3 separate regions of the Homo sapiens genome follow, and regions 1 and 2 are each linked to region 3. The links come from fine-mapping of genetic effects on gene expression. A gene starts in region 3. Each other region holds a variant in brackets. All regions are shown on one strand. Distances are from middle to middle.

Region 1 (4,356 bases), 87 kb before region 3:
AGCTGTGAAGCCATAAGGTCCTGTGCTTTTTCTTTGTTGGGGGACTTTATTACTGTTTTAATACTGTTACTCATTATTGATGTATTCAGGTTTTCTTCGTTATTCAGTCATGGTAGGTTATATGTGTTCAGGAACTTATCCATTTCTTCCAGGTTTTCTAATTTGTTGGCATGTAGTTCGTAATAGTCTCTAATGATTTCTTGTATTTCTGTGGTATCTGTTATAATGTTTCCTTTTCTTTTTCTTTTTTATTTTACATGAATAGTGCTTTTATTTATTAATTAAATTTGTTTATTTACTTTGAGACAGTGTCTTGCTGTGTCACCCAGGCTGGAGTGGGCAATGGTGTGATCTCAGCTCACTACAGCCTGGACCTCCCAGGCTCAAGTGATCCTCCCACCTCAGACTCCCAGGGCTGGGACTACAGGCATGTGCCACCACACCCAGCCAATTTTTTAAATTTTTTGTAGACAGAATCTATGTTGTCCAGGCTGCTAATGTTTCTCTTTTCATCCTTAGTTTTAATTATTTGAGTCTTCTCTTTTTGTTAGTCTAGCTAAGTTTGTTGATTTATTTTTTCAAAAAACAAACTTTTTGTTTTGTTCCTCTTTTGTATTTTTTTAAGTCTCAATTTCATTTATTTCTGCTTTAATCTTCATTATTTCTTTCCTTCTACTAATTTTGGCTTTGGCTTGCTCTTGCTTTTCTGTTTCCTTGAGATACATTATTAGATTGTTTATTTGTCTTTCTATTTTTTTGATGGAGGCATTTACTTCTATAAACTTCCCTCTTGCTGCTGCATTTGCTGTATCCTATAGTTTCTGGTATGTTGTGTTTCCATTTTTGTTTTTCTCAAGAAATTTTTTAATTTCCTTAACTTATTCGTTGAGCCATTGATCGTTCAGGAACATGTTATTTAATTTCCATGTATTTTTACAGTTTCAGAAGTTCCTCCTGTTACTGATTTCTAGTCTTGCTCTGTTGCAGCCAGAAAAGATATTGATATGATTTGACTTTGTTTAATTAATTTGTTGAGACTTGTTTTCTGGCCTAACATGTGGTCTATTCTGGAGAATGTTTTAGGTACTGATGAGAAAAATGTGCATTCTGCAGCAGTTGGATGAAATGTTTTATGGATGTCTGTTAGGGCTAGTTGGCTTAGAGTATAATTTATCTCCAATGTTTCTTTGTTGATTTTCCACCTGGATGATCTGTCCGTTGCTAAAAGTGAGGTGTTGAAGTCCCCTACTGCTACTGTATTGCAGTTTATCTCTCCCTTTAGCTTTGCTAATATTAATATTTGCTTCATATATTTGGGTGTTCTTGGTGTTGGATGTATATATATTTATTGTTGTCATGTCTTCTTGCTCAGTTGACTGACACCTTTGTATAATGACGTTTGTGTCTTTTTACAATTTTTGACTTAAAGTCTATTTTATCTGGCCAAGTGCAGTGGTTCATGCCTGTAATCCCAGCACTTTAGGAAGCCAAGGTGGGCAGATGGCTTGGCTCAGGAGTTCAAGACCAGCCTGGCCAACATGGCAAAACCCCGTCTCTAGTAAAAATACAAAAATTAGCTGGGCATGGTGGCGCATGCCTGTAATCCCAGCTGCTTGGGAGGCTGAGGCACAAGAATCGCTTGAGCACAGGAGGTGGAGGTTGCAGTGAGCTGAGATCACACCACTGCACTCCAGCCTGGGCAGCAGAGCGAGACTCTGTCTCAAAAAAAAAAAAAGAAAAAGACAAGGTCTATTTTATCTGATATGAATATAGCTCTTCCTACTCCTTTTTGGTTTCCATTTGCATGGAATATCTTTTTCCATCCCCTCACTTTCAGTGTATT[G/T]TGTCTTTACAGGTGAAGTGATTTTCCTGTAGGCAACATATAGTTAGATCATGTTTTTTAATCCATTTTGCCACTCTGTATCTTTTAATTAGACAGTTTAATCCATTTACACTAAATGTTACTATTGATATGTCAGGATTTACTGCCATTTTTGCTTCTTTTCTAACTCCTCTCTTCCTTTCTTCCTTTTTTACTGTCTTCTTTTGTGGTTAAGTGATTTCTCTGGCAGTATGTTTTAATCTATTGCTTTTTATTTTTAGTGTATCTGTTATAGATTTTTGCTTTGTGGTTACCATGAGGCTTACAAAAAATATTCTGTAGTTAACAACAAGTTACTTAAGATTGATAACAACTTTGATCACAAAAAGAAGAGAAAACAAAGAACACTGTACACATTAGCTCCATTCTCTTCCCCACATTTTGAACGTTTGATGGCACAATTTGCATTTTTATATTGCCTGTCTCTTGGTAAATTGTAGTCATTATTTTTAATACTTCTGTCTTTTAGTCTTCTTAGTAAATATATAAGTGGTTTATGCATCATGATTATAATATTAGTGTAACAATCATGTTAACAGTCTTTTTCCTGTGGTTTAAAAAAATTCCCTTTAGCATTTATTGTAGGACAGCTCTGGTGATAAATTCCCAGTTTTTGTTTGTGAAAGTCTCTCTTTCACTTCTAAATAATAGCTTTGCTAGATAGAGTATTCTTAGAAGGCTTTTTTTTTTTCCATCAGCACTCTGAATATATCATCCCATTCACTCCTGGCCCGTAATGTTTCTGCTGAGAAGTCTGCTGCCAGGTGTATTGGATCTTTCCTAAATGTTATTTGCATCTTTACTCTTGCTGCTTTCAGGATCTTCTCTTTGTCTTTCACCTTTGGGAGTTTGATTATATGTCTTAGAGTATCTTTACTTGGACTGACTCTGATTGGTGACCTTTGACTTTCCTGTACCTGGATATTTGTATCTTTCTCCAGGTTTGGGAAGTTTTCTGTTATTATTTCTTCAAATAAACTTTCTACCCCTGTCTTTCTCAGTTCCCTACCTAACTCCAACACCCCAAATATTTGCTTTTTTATGTTGGCCCACAGATTCATAAGCTTTCTTCATTTCTTTTTTTTCTTTTTTCTCCCCTGTGTATTTTCAGCTAGTCTGTTTTCAAGCTCACTGATTGTTCTGTTTAACCAATTCTGCTGTTGCTCCCTATTACATCTTTCATTTCATTCAGTGTATTTTCAGCTCCTGAGTTTCTGTTTGATTGTTTTTATTATTTCAATCTCTATATTAAATTTCTTTGATATATTCCTCATTTGAGTCTCTGTGATTTCCTGAAGTTCATTGACCTTCCTTAAAACAGCTATTTAAAATTCTTTGAGAGATCTCACATCTCCATCACTTTGGGGTAAGTGGCACCTTATTTTATCCATTTGATGAGGTCATATTTCTCTGAATGTTCTTGATGCTTGTGGAAGTATGACGGTGTCTACACACCAAGGGGTTACATTTTTATTTTAGTTTTCACAGTCTGGCTTTGTTTATGCCTGGCCTTCTTCAGAGGGCCTTCCAGGGATTCTAAACAGACTGACTTGTGTTTCCTGAGCCTGTGTCTACTGCAGTTGTCTCAGCACTGGAGGACGCTCTAAGCCTAGGCTTGCTCCATGTCTTGTGAGGGCTCGGAAGTTGATGCCAATTTCTGGCCCAGATGGATCTGGGGAAGACACAAGGAAGGTACCGGGGCTGGGTGGGAATGCTGGCCAGGGACCCAAGTCCAGAAAACTGTCCCAGTGGCCCAGATGGGTGTGCCTCCCAGCAGGTATTTACACAGGAGTAGGTGGAGCTTAAGAGACAAAGGCAGTATGACTTCAATGGCATGTAAGACCTGGCCTTTGACTATTTTTGTGATTCCCCTACCACTATCACTCTCCTCTTCCTTTTCTAGCCACATTGGCTTTTTGTGCCCCAACTTCTCACCGCAAAACATACACTAAGTTTATTCCAGCCATATAGACTTTGTATTGTATATATTGTTCCCTCTGCCTAAATTGCATTTTCTACAGGTACCTATGTGATGGCTTCTTTGCATTCAGGCCTCAGTCGCTTTTTCAAAGTTGCTCTTCTTCACTACCCAAATAAGACTATCCCCCATTCTGATTACTACATCTGTCACCCTCTTTTGTTATCTTCACAGCATTTATCAGTAGCCAAAATTATTTATTCATTTATTTTCTTAGTTATTTTCTGCTTCTCCCTGCTAAAGTATAAACCAGGAAAGGAGCTCTCTTATTTGTGTTATTCATTTTTCAGTCCTTTTCTAAAATAATGCCTGGCATATTTTAGTGAAGTGAAGACAAGGGTAGTCTCCCCTTATCTGCGGTTTCCTTTCCACGATTTCAGTTACTGCAGTCAACCTCAGTCTGAAAATAGGTGAGTACAGTACAATAAAATATATTGAGAGAGAGATGACCACATTCACATACCTTTTATTACAGCATTTTGTTATAATTATTCCA
Region 2 (4,000 bases), 360 kb after region 3:
AGATTTGGTTAAAACATTAAAAGAAAAAAAATCCCACAAAGCCCTGTAACGTGTTTTGTCAAAGACAAAATCCAGCATTTTTTTTTTTAAAAGAGAAGCTGTGGAAAAAGAATCAGAAGTTAGTCATAAAAATAATTTTAAACTGCTAAAGTTAATCCATAGTGATACATTTAGAATATACTGAAAATTAAGAGATTAAAAATATCTCTTACATCCAAGAATACTGTTTTTAAAAGTGAATGTACTCCCCTAAACTACATTAAATATCTGTGTTGAAAGCAATCAGCTATGACATACCTACAACCCTAAGTGGTAAATTTACTGATACCTGAAATAACCAAGAATGATGACATTCTTTGTACTATTAGAAACCCTTTTATATCTAAATGTATTAAATGAAAAGAAATAGCAAACCTCTTTGGAGCCTTTAGGACAATAAAGAAGGAAGAAAATGACCTTATGCTTTTCTTCAGGTTCCTTCTTTGTAGAAGTATACACAAATATACTTTAGCACATTAAGTGGCTAGTCAATTTTCAGGTTTCAGAACCACTACCATTTAAGACTAGAAAATATGGGATGAAAATACACATAAAATAGTCTGTAATGGTAACACTGAAGCTGGGATCTCATAGAAGAACTGATCCAATTTTTCAATAAGCAGAAGAACTCTAAGTAGATCATTTTTATAGTATTCTGAATGCTATTCCTGACATATACCATACCGAGGGCATTATCTTTATTCTGCATTACATTTTCCGGAAAAAGAAGTTGTGGGAGATTAAAGAACGATTCTTGAAGTCTGAAATCTGTGAAAAAAAAACACAAGATGCTGTAAAGGGTTGGCTGATGATTAAAAATGGCCTTCAATGATGTAGTGGCCAAAAGTTAGAACAATACTCCCAAATAAACTGACTAAATCTAGCATACATAAAGTAGTACACATCTTAATTTTTGTAAGGAGCTCTTTCATGGAAAATGTAAGCATAACTAACTTGAAATATAATCTCATAATCTGTTAACACCCAGATAGTCCCCAAATTCATAGCTAATTTAGTTCCTAACCTAGATGCAAAACAATGCTAAAAGAAACAGATCTTTGCATTATATGTTAGAAAAGAAGTCTAGACTTTTCAAAAGAAGAATAGCTAGGTAAGATGCTTCAACTGGATGAAAATAAAATAGGTTTCAATTGACAACACTAGTTCTTCACATAAAGAAACAGACAGATCATGAATTCTAAGCCTGTGCCCCATTTTACCCTCAAATAGCAAGTGAATCAAAGTCGGTAGCTTCAGAATAAAGGTTATCCAGAAGAACTGAGGCAATTAATGTAAGTAGAAGGAAGAAAGGAGGGAAGCCAGAATCACCTAATCACAATGACCAAATTTCAGAAAGAAGATTTAATGAAGAAAAGTTTTATGATTTGCACGATATAGCCAAGACAGCACTTAACGACGAGAAATTATGACGATTACACAGATTACATTATTGAAGCAAGCCAAATAATTAGTAAAGCAAATCTTGGGAATAGGATTTAAAAGGCAGAATCTTATTATAATAGTCCAATTTTAATAGTTATATCTATATCTAGAGGTGAATAT[G/A]TGTAATATGTATAATATATAAGTATGTGTAATATGTGAATATGTGTAAGACTCATAATTACCTCATATTGAGTCTTGTTGACTATTTTACCATTCGGACTATCAAAGAATTTATGTGTAAGAATGACATAGTATGTATTTTGTTAAGCTCTCAAAATAAAAAGATGCAATACAGCTATGCACCTCTACTAACTGCTGTTCTGGAAGAAAAAACTGGGGGTTTCTCTATTATTTTGAAATTACTATGTTAAACAGAAAAAAAAAACCTAAAAAAGTTTTATTCCCTCAGAGCCTGTAGATTCTATACATACGTTTTCATTACCCTTTTTCTAGGGGGTTAAACCCTACCCTGCTCTTCTTGCTCCCTCCCTCACTCTGATGTTTACTAGCACTACTGTTGCACATTAATGACATTACAGAGAACCATGACTTTTTACCTGCTACCTTACAAAATTCTTTGAAATTAATTTTCTTCAGCAGTTAGAGTTTTCTTGACATCTGCATGTCACGACAGAATTTTGTATTTTCACAATCACATTTTTGATATTAAGTAGAAAAGGAAACAAGTCAGAAATAGTATGAGAACTCTTATAGAAGGTAAAATATATTTAATGCAAATATCAAAGTCTAAAAAAGAATTTTCCAGACTTGCAATTATAAAATTTTCAGTGTCCAGAGTCTGGCACAGATATAATTAAATTAAAAATGCTGTTGGCCCAAGTAGGAATGTTCAACCCTATTAATAATTCATCCTGGAGTGGAGTTGACTGTGGAAGAATTATTCAGCCTCTAGGAGTGTCACACCTGAACTTTCTAAGGATGGATGGCAATGAATGCCATCATTTTACAATTTAGAGTAGCAGACACAGTAAGAACACAATACTCTAAGTAACAAATAAAATCTGTTTAAAAATTTCTAGAGAAAGAAAAGTTTTCTCCCTGCTATAGTTACAGAAAAGGAGTAGCTAGTTTCAGAATTTATATTTCATTATAGGTGTCAATGAAAAAATAGGACTTGACGTTTTAGTTTTATTTTACTAGACACCTAAAAATAATGTTCAAGTTCAGACTCTTGGAAGTAAATATATACTAAGTGTATTCGTGTTTCACAACTACTCAACATTTCAAACTTTCTAAGTCCACCGGAGAAAGCTTAAAGATCCATATAATGCTAAGTCCAACATAACTATCCATTTATTTACTCATTTTTTCAATATCTGCTTTACACTAGGTAGCTGGGATAGAATTGGAAGCCATTCAGCAGATCCAATAAAATTTCTAAGCTTTGAATAGAAGTAGGATGACTTTGGTATAGCAGTTTTTAAAGTCTCAAGACCAGATACAGCATAGATCTAAAGCAATAATTACACGATTTTTGAGACTGAGAAGATCACATTAGTAAAAATCTACTTTATAAACTTCAGGGGGTACTTACCCTAAAGAGATTTGTTTTATGCTTGATGGTTAAGACCTTGTGCCACAAGGCCCTAATTACTAATATTCTATTAATTCATCAATGCAGAAAGTAAAACTGCATTTTCCTGGAAATTATTCTTAAAAATATAAGCAGAAGGAAAGCATTTTTTTCTTTCAAAGTTAAGGCACACTTTAGATCTTAGAGTTGACTAGCTAGTATTAATATTTTATACCTCCCTGCCCTCCCCAAGTTTTAAAAAGATACAGTATCAACTTAAGGAAATAATGTATGAACTAACATGCAGAATCGAGGAAGCCAGAACTGCTATGTGGAAGGGTCTGTGTCCCTACGGTGGTAGCAGAAGGTGAGGCAACTGGCTTCTTCTCATCTTCCATTGAGTCTTTTGATGTTTCAGATGACTGTGTTGTAGATGAACGTCCAAATCTTGAGAACAACATTCCTCCAAGTCCCTTTCCAATGCTAGCAGCCCCTGTATTTCACAAAGCAGGGTAGTCATTCTGTTGAATCACACCACACTCTAAGCTAAAGAGCACCACCCATAATTATAGCCAACTGGCAGAGGGACCAAACCCTAGTCATGTTTTTCCAGGGTGGGAACATAAGAAAATTATAATTTATATTGCAGGTTTCTAAATAAAAATGGTGAATAGAATGAGAGTTGTATAAGCTCTAGGAATATAACACAGGAATATATAAACAAAGGAATAAAGATTCTATTTTATTCAAGTGATCATGGTTTATTAAAATATTTGGCAAGATTAAAGTCTTTGATAAAAGAACCATGCCATTGACATGAGTATAGATTTACTATTGATATACTTACTACTGAATTTAAATGGACATGTAAGAAAAAGCCATCAATAAACAATGTATTAACATGAGAAAGTAAAACAGCCAATGAGTCCAGGAGATAAAGCCTATTTATAGTGCCACCTTGTGGTATTTTACATTAAGGCAACT
Region 3 (4,356 bases):
GCTGGATGCTTCCTGCCCTCAAATACCAAACTCCAAGTTCTTCAGTTTCGGAACTCAGACTGGCTCTCCTTGCTCCTCAGCCTGCAGACAGCCTATTGCGGGACCTTGTGATCATGTGAATTAATACTTAATAAACTCCCTTTATATATATATTCCATTGGTTCTATCCCTCTAGAGAACCCGGACTAATACAGACCGGGTCTCCAAGCTGGTCTCGAACTCCTGGGCTCACTCCATCCTGCCACCTCAGTGTCCCAAGTAGCTGAGACCACAGGCGCACACCATCACACCCAGCTTTTTTCTTTTTTTAATTTTTTTTGTAGAGACGGGGGTTTCACTATGTTGCCCGTGCTGGTCTTGAACTCCTGGACTCAAGAGATCCTCCCACCTCAGCCTCCCAAAGTGCTGGGATTACAGGCTGGAGCCACCACACCCAGCCCAATTTACTATTTTTCAAGGTTGAGTCTGAAAAGAAACACAGATAGCCACTCTCGTTCTAAAAGAAAAAGAAAGGGGTTTAACAGAATTTTATGTTAGGGAAGTATTTGAATATGAGGGTATTGTGAAAGAGGAAAAGTTTAATCACTAGTTAGAAGAAAAAGAAAATAAATGCAAAGAATTTAAAGTTCTATTTTAAGCAGAACTCCAAAAAGGTTATTAAGGAAAAAAAAAGTAAAAGTTGAAGAGTTCAACATGTACTTTTATTCCAGTATCCAAATCTCCAGAATGTAGCTGAAAATGTTACATTGGACATCTTCTTTCCGTAAAGAATATTTTATTTTAAAGTCACTTATTTCTATCTTATTTTTTAAATGTTTAATCTCGGTGTTGCGTTATATTTCTAATCAGAAGAAAAATGACCCTTTTCCTTTTAAGTACTTGATTGTGTGTCCTTTGTAATGATTGAAGGTAAAGGACTTTTCAATGTCTCAGTTGTAAAGTAGCAATTTTCTTTCAACTTCCCTTAGTTTCCTAGATAACACTCACCTCAACTCCCAAATCACTCAGCAAAACAACAAAATCCAAGAATGTAAAGTAGTGAAAGAGAAACCTTTCATAATATTTAAATGCATCTTTCCTTTGACATGGTATCATGCCCCTAAACACATAAAATGGTATTTCTGATAATAAATTAATAGCAAAATCCACTTAGGAATAACATGGATGCCTAACCCTTAATTTTGTATAAAACGTAATTTTTATCAACAGAGTCAACCAAAAAGTGGCTTTGACAAGAGTAATCACATTGAAATACTAGATACTGAAGATAATGGAAAACTGTAAGTTTCTCTCAATTTTTTGCTCAAGAAACCACATCTCTTACAGAAGGAAATGATCATAATCCGCTTGTAATTAAACTTGTGCACTGAAGAATAAGGACCTTCCTCCCAATTCGTACCAGCTTAACGGGTGTCACGATAAGAGAATCTCATTACATTCGAGAAAAAGAGCACACAGGACCAGAAACCAGAGGGCAACTGCAGTCCCAAAGACATCAGGTAGTTGGGCTTACACACAGAAAAACCGCAAGCAGCCATTCTTCCGCCTAACATCGAAATCTGAGATCAGCCCACAAACGTCTTAGCCAGAAAGGCTGGCGAAATGCACGCAGCACAGGTACTGGGTACACAAGTTCCTGGTCAAGAGAGAAGTGAGAAAGATCCAGGTTCTGTGAAAATAGCAAATACTGGCAGGGCATTATACACTGTGCACACTCTCCCCGGGCAGATAAGACCAACAAAGATGCATAAACCCACTCAACCGCGTGCACCCAACCCCTCTCCTGGTCCGAGGCACCGGAGGGCGCGGCGACGTCCAGGCTGCCGTGGAGGCCCGGTCCACGCCAAGCCAGACTCAGTCCCGGCCACCGGGCAGCAGCACCGGAGTCTCATTCCCGGTGGGAAGAGATGCAAGGACGCACCCCCAGCCGCTCACCCGCCAGGGCGTGCGGGACAGTGCACGCCGCGGAGGGCGCCGGGACCCTCAGCACCAACGCGCACATCGCTCACCTGGCAGAAGCACCTCTGTGCCGCTGTCTCCGGGGGCTGCTCCTCTCCGTGGCCCGAGCTGAGCAGCCACACGGCGCCCAGGAGGCCAAACAAGAATCCCCAGCCGCGGCCCATTGCAGCTCCGGCAGCTTGTCGCCCCACGCTTGGGAGGCCAGTCCGCACGCTCGGTCGCGGGCCGTGCGCCCTCAGATGAAGCCCGTGCGGGCCGGCCCCAGCGGCGCCCCACCTCCGGGCCGCCTCCCAGGCCCGCCTCGGCCCTCCTGCCTCTCAGCGATCGCCACCTCGCGACCCAGCCTGTGGACGTGCCGCGGCGCCCGCGCCGGCAGCCCGGGGCCTCGGACCGGTTCCTTCCCGCCGCGTGAGGCTGACGCACCGACCAGCTTCCCGGCTCGGCCCCGCCCGGTCCGCTGCGCCCGCGCCCGTCCCCGCCCCCGGCTCCCTGACGCCCCCGGCCTGGAGACGCAACCCGACGCGCACAACCCCAGACCCTGCGCGGGAGTCGGGGGTCCTTCCAGTTCCCAGAGCGAGAGCGAAAGCCGGAGGGGCCTGTGTTTTCCTGCGGGGTTGGGGGGCGGGGGGTGCCCGCCCCGCGCCGCCCCGCCCAGCCCCAGCCCGCTCACTCCCGGCCAATCCTTCCGTATCTCAATGCGAGACAATCAAATCGTACGAATTACGTGTCCACCGTGTTCCCGGCGGAGTCTTAAAGCTGAAAGGGATATTAGAGAGCATCTAGACCAGGGCAGCATATGTCATTTATATTTTTAGTAGCCACAGCAAAAGAGTAAAAATAACAGGTACATTTTATTTTTAAAATATTTTTATTTAACCCCGAATGTGCAAAATATTATTTCAAAATATAACCAACATTAAATTTATTCATAAGATATTTGACTTTTTTTGTCTTTGAAATCCAGTGTGTATTCGATGCGAACTAGACCCATTTCATAGTCAAATGTGGCTGGCTAGTGCCCACTGTATTAGACAGCGAGGGTGGAAGCCACCCGCTCATATCATAGGAAGAAACAGGCCTAGAGAAGTGAGGTAAGGTGAGCAAGGATTGGAGGTCCTCTGATACCCAGTCCTGGTCTTTTAACATTCAGAGTTGGGACTAGTCTATCCGCTTTTTTTTTTTCCAGACAGGGTCTCCCTGGGTCACCCAGGCTGGCCTGCAATGATGCGATCGCAGCTCACTGCAACCTCGAACTCCTGGGCTCAAGCGATCCTCCCACCTAAGCCTCCTGAGTAGCATGAACTACAGGCGTGCGCCACCACGCCTGGCTAATTTTATTTTTAGTAGAAACGAGGTTTCACCATGTTGCCCAGGCTGGTCTCAAACTCCTCAAGAGCGATTCTCCCGCCTCAGCCTCCCAAAGTGCTGGGATTACTTTTTTTTTTTTTTTCGAGGCGGAGTCTCGCTCTGTCGCCCAGGCTGGAGTGCAGTGGCGTCATCTTGGCTTACTGCAATCTCTGCCTCCCAGGTTCAAGAGATTCTCCTGCCTGAGCTTCCCCAGTAGCTGGGATTACAGGCGTAAGCCACCACACACTCGGCTAATTTTTGTATTTTCAGTAGAGAAGGGGTTTTGCCATGTTGGCCAGGCTGGTCTCTAGCTCTGAGCTCAGGTGACCCACCCATCTCAGCCTCCCAAAGTGCTAGAATTGCAGACATGAGCCACCGCACCTGGCCTTACTTTTTGTTTTTTGTTTGTTTGTTTGTTTGTTGTTTTAAGAAGACTTTTTTTTGAGACACTCTCACTTCCTCACCCAGGCTGGAGTGCAGTGGCGCAATCTCGGGTCACTGCAACCTCCGCTTCCCGGGTTTAAGTGATTCTTACGCCTCAGCTACCCGAGTAGCTGGGATTACAGGCCTGCGCCACCATACCCAGCTAACTTTTGTATTTTTAGTAGACATGTGGTTTCACCATGTTGGCCAGGCTGGTCTCGAACTCCTGACCTTAAGTGATCTGCCTGCCTCTGCCTCCCAAAGTGCTGGGATTACAGGTGTGAGCCACTTCACCAAGCCTAAGAAGGTAGTTTCTAGGTGAAACTGGCAGCTTTCCGACATCTTGCATGCACATTAAAAGTTGAAATAGTTCAAATGACTTAAACTCATGTATTTTACTGCAAACCCTAGAGCTCTGCCTATCACTGCCAAGTAGACATGTAGTAAAAGTCAACAACCCATCTGAGATCCTGATGGACCTGAGAAGCTCTAATTCTAGTATCTACAACATGTCACATGTACATATTAATACAATCTCCCTCCTAACCTGAAAGCTTTTTTTTTTTTTTTTCTTTTTCTTTTTTTTTTTTTTTTTGAGATAGATTCTCACTCTGTCGCCAGGCTGGA

Alleles and levels. Alleles are on the strand shown, and positions count from the first base shown. SD is a standard deviation of normalised expression in the study named. Not every link is listed here.
For the expression in fibroblasts of the gene that starts at base 2,200 in region 3, allele T in region 1 goes with a higher level than allele G (small effect, 0.16 SD a copy in GTEx).

What was found. PIP is the estimated chance that this variant, and not a neighbour inherited with it, causes the effect. A credible set is the group of variants that fine-mapping cannot tell apart.
Region 1: its variant is the best candidate, but not a certain one, in a credible set for the expression of ERO1A in fibroblasts (GTEx, PIP 0.50).
Region 2: its variant is the best candidate, but not a certain one, in a credible set for the expression of ERO1A in whole blood (INTERVAL, PIP 0.78).

What each region holds. Positions count from the first base shown.
Region 1 is chr14:52,606,153-52,610,508 of GRCh38, forward strand. All of the region lies in intron 3 of GPR137C (G protein-coupled receptor 137C), which reads left to right. Among named protein-coding and RNA genes, the nearest start is that of GPR137C, 55 kb to the left of the region's middle. The variant G/T (reference allele first, on the strand shown) is at 1,844.
Region 2 is chr14:53,051,121-53,055,120 of GRCh38, forward strand. It overlaps DDHD1 (DDHD domain containing 1), which reads right to left. Exons shown (of 13, transcript NM_001160148.2): 11 at 3,318-3,509; 12 at 724-807. Among named protein-coding and RNA genes, the nearest start is that of DDHD1, 100 kb to the right of the region's middle. The variant G/A (reference allele first, on the strand shown) is at 1,603.
Region 3 is chr14:52,693,359-52,697,714 of GRCh38, forward strand. ERO1A (endoplasmic reticulum oxidoreductase 1 alpha) reads right to left here and starts at 2,200. Exons shown (of 16, transcript NM_014584.3): 1 at 2,010-2,200. The coding sequence starts at 2,123. RefSeq lists enhancers at 1,725-2,226, 1,832-1,881 and a silencer at 2,132-2,671.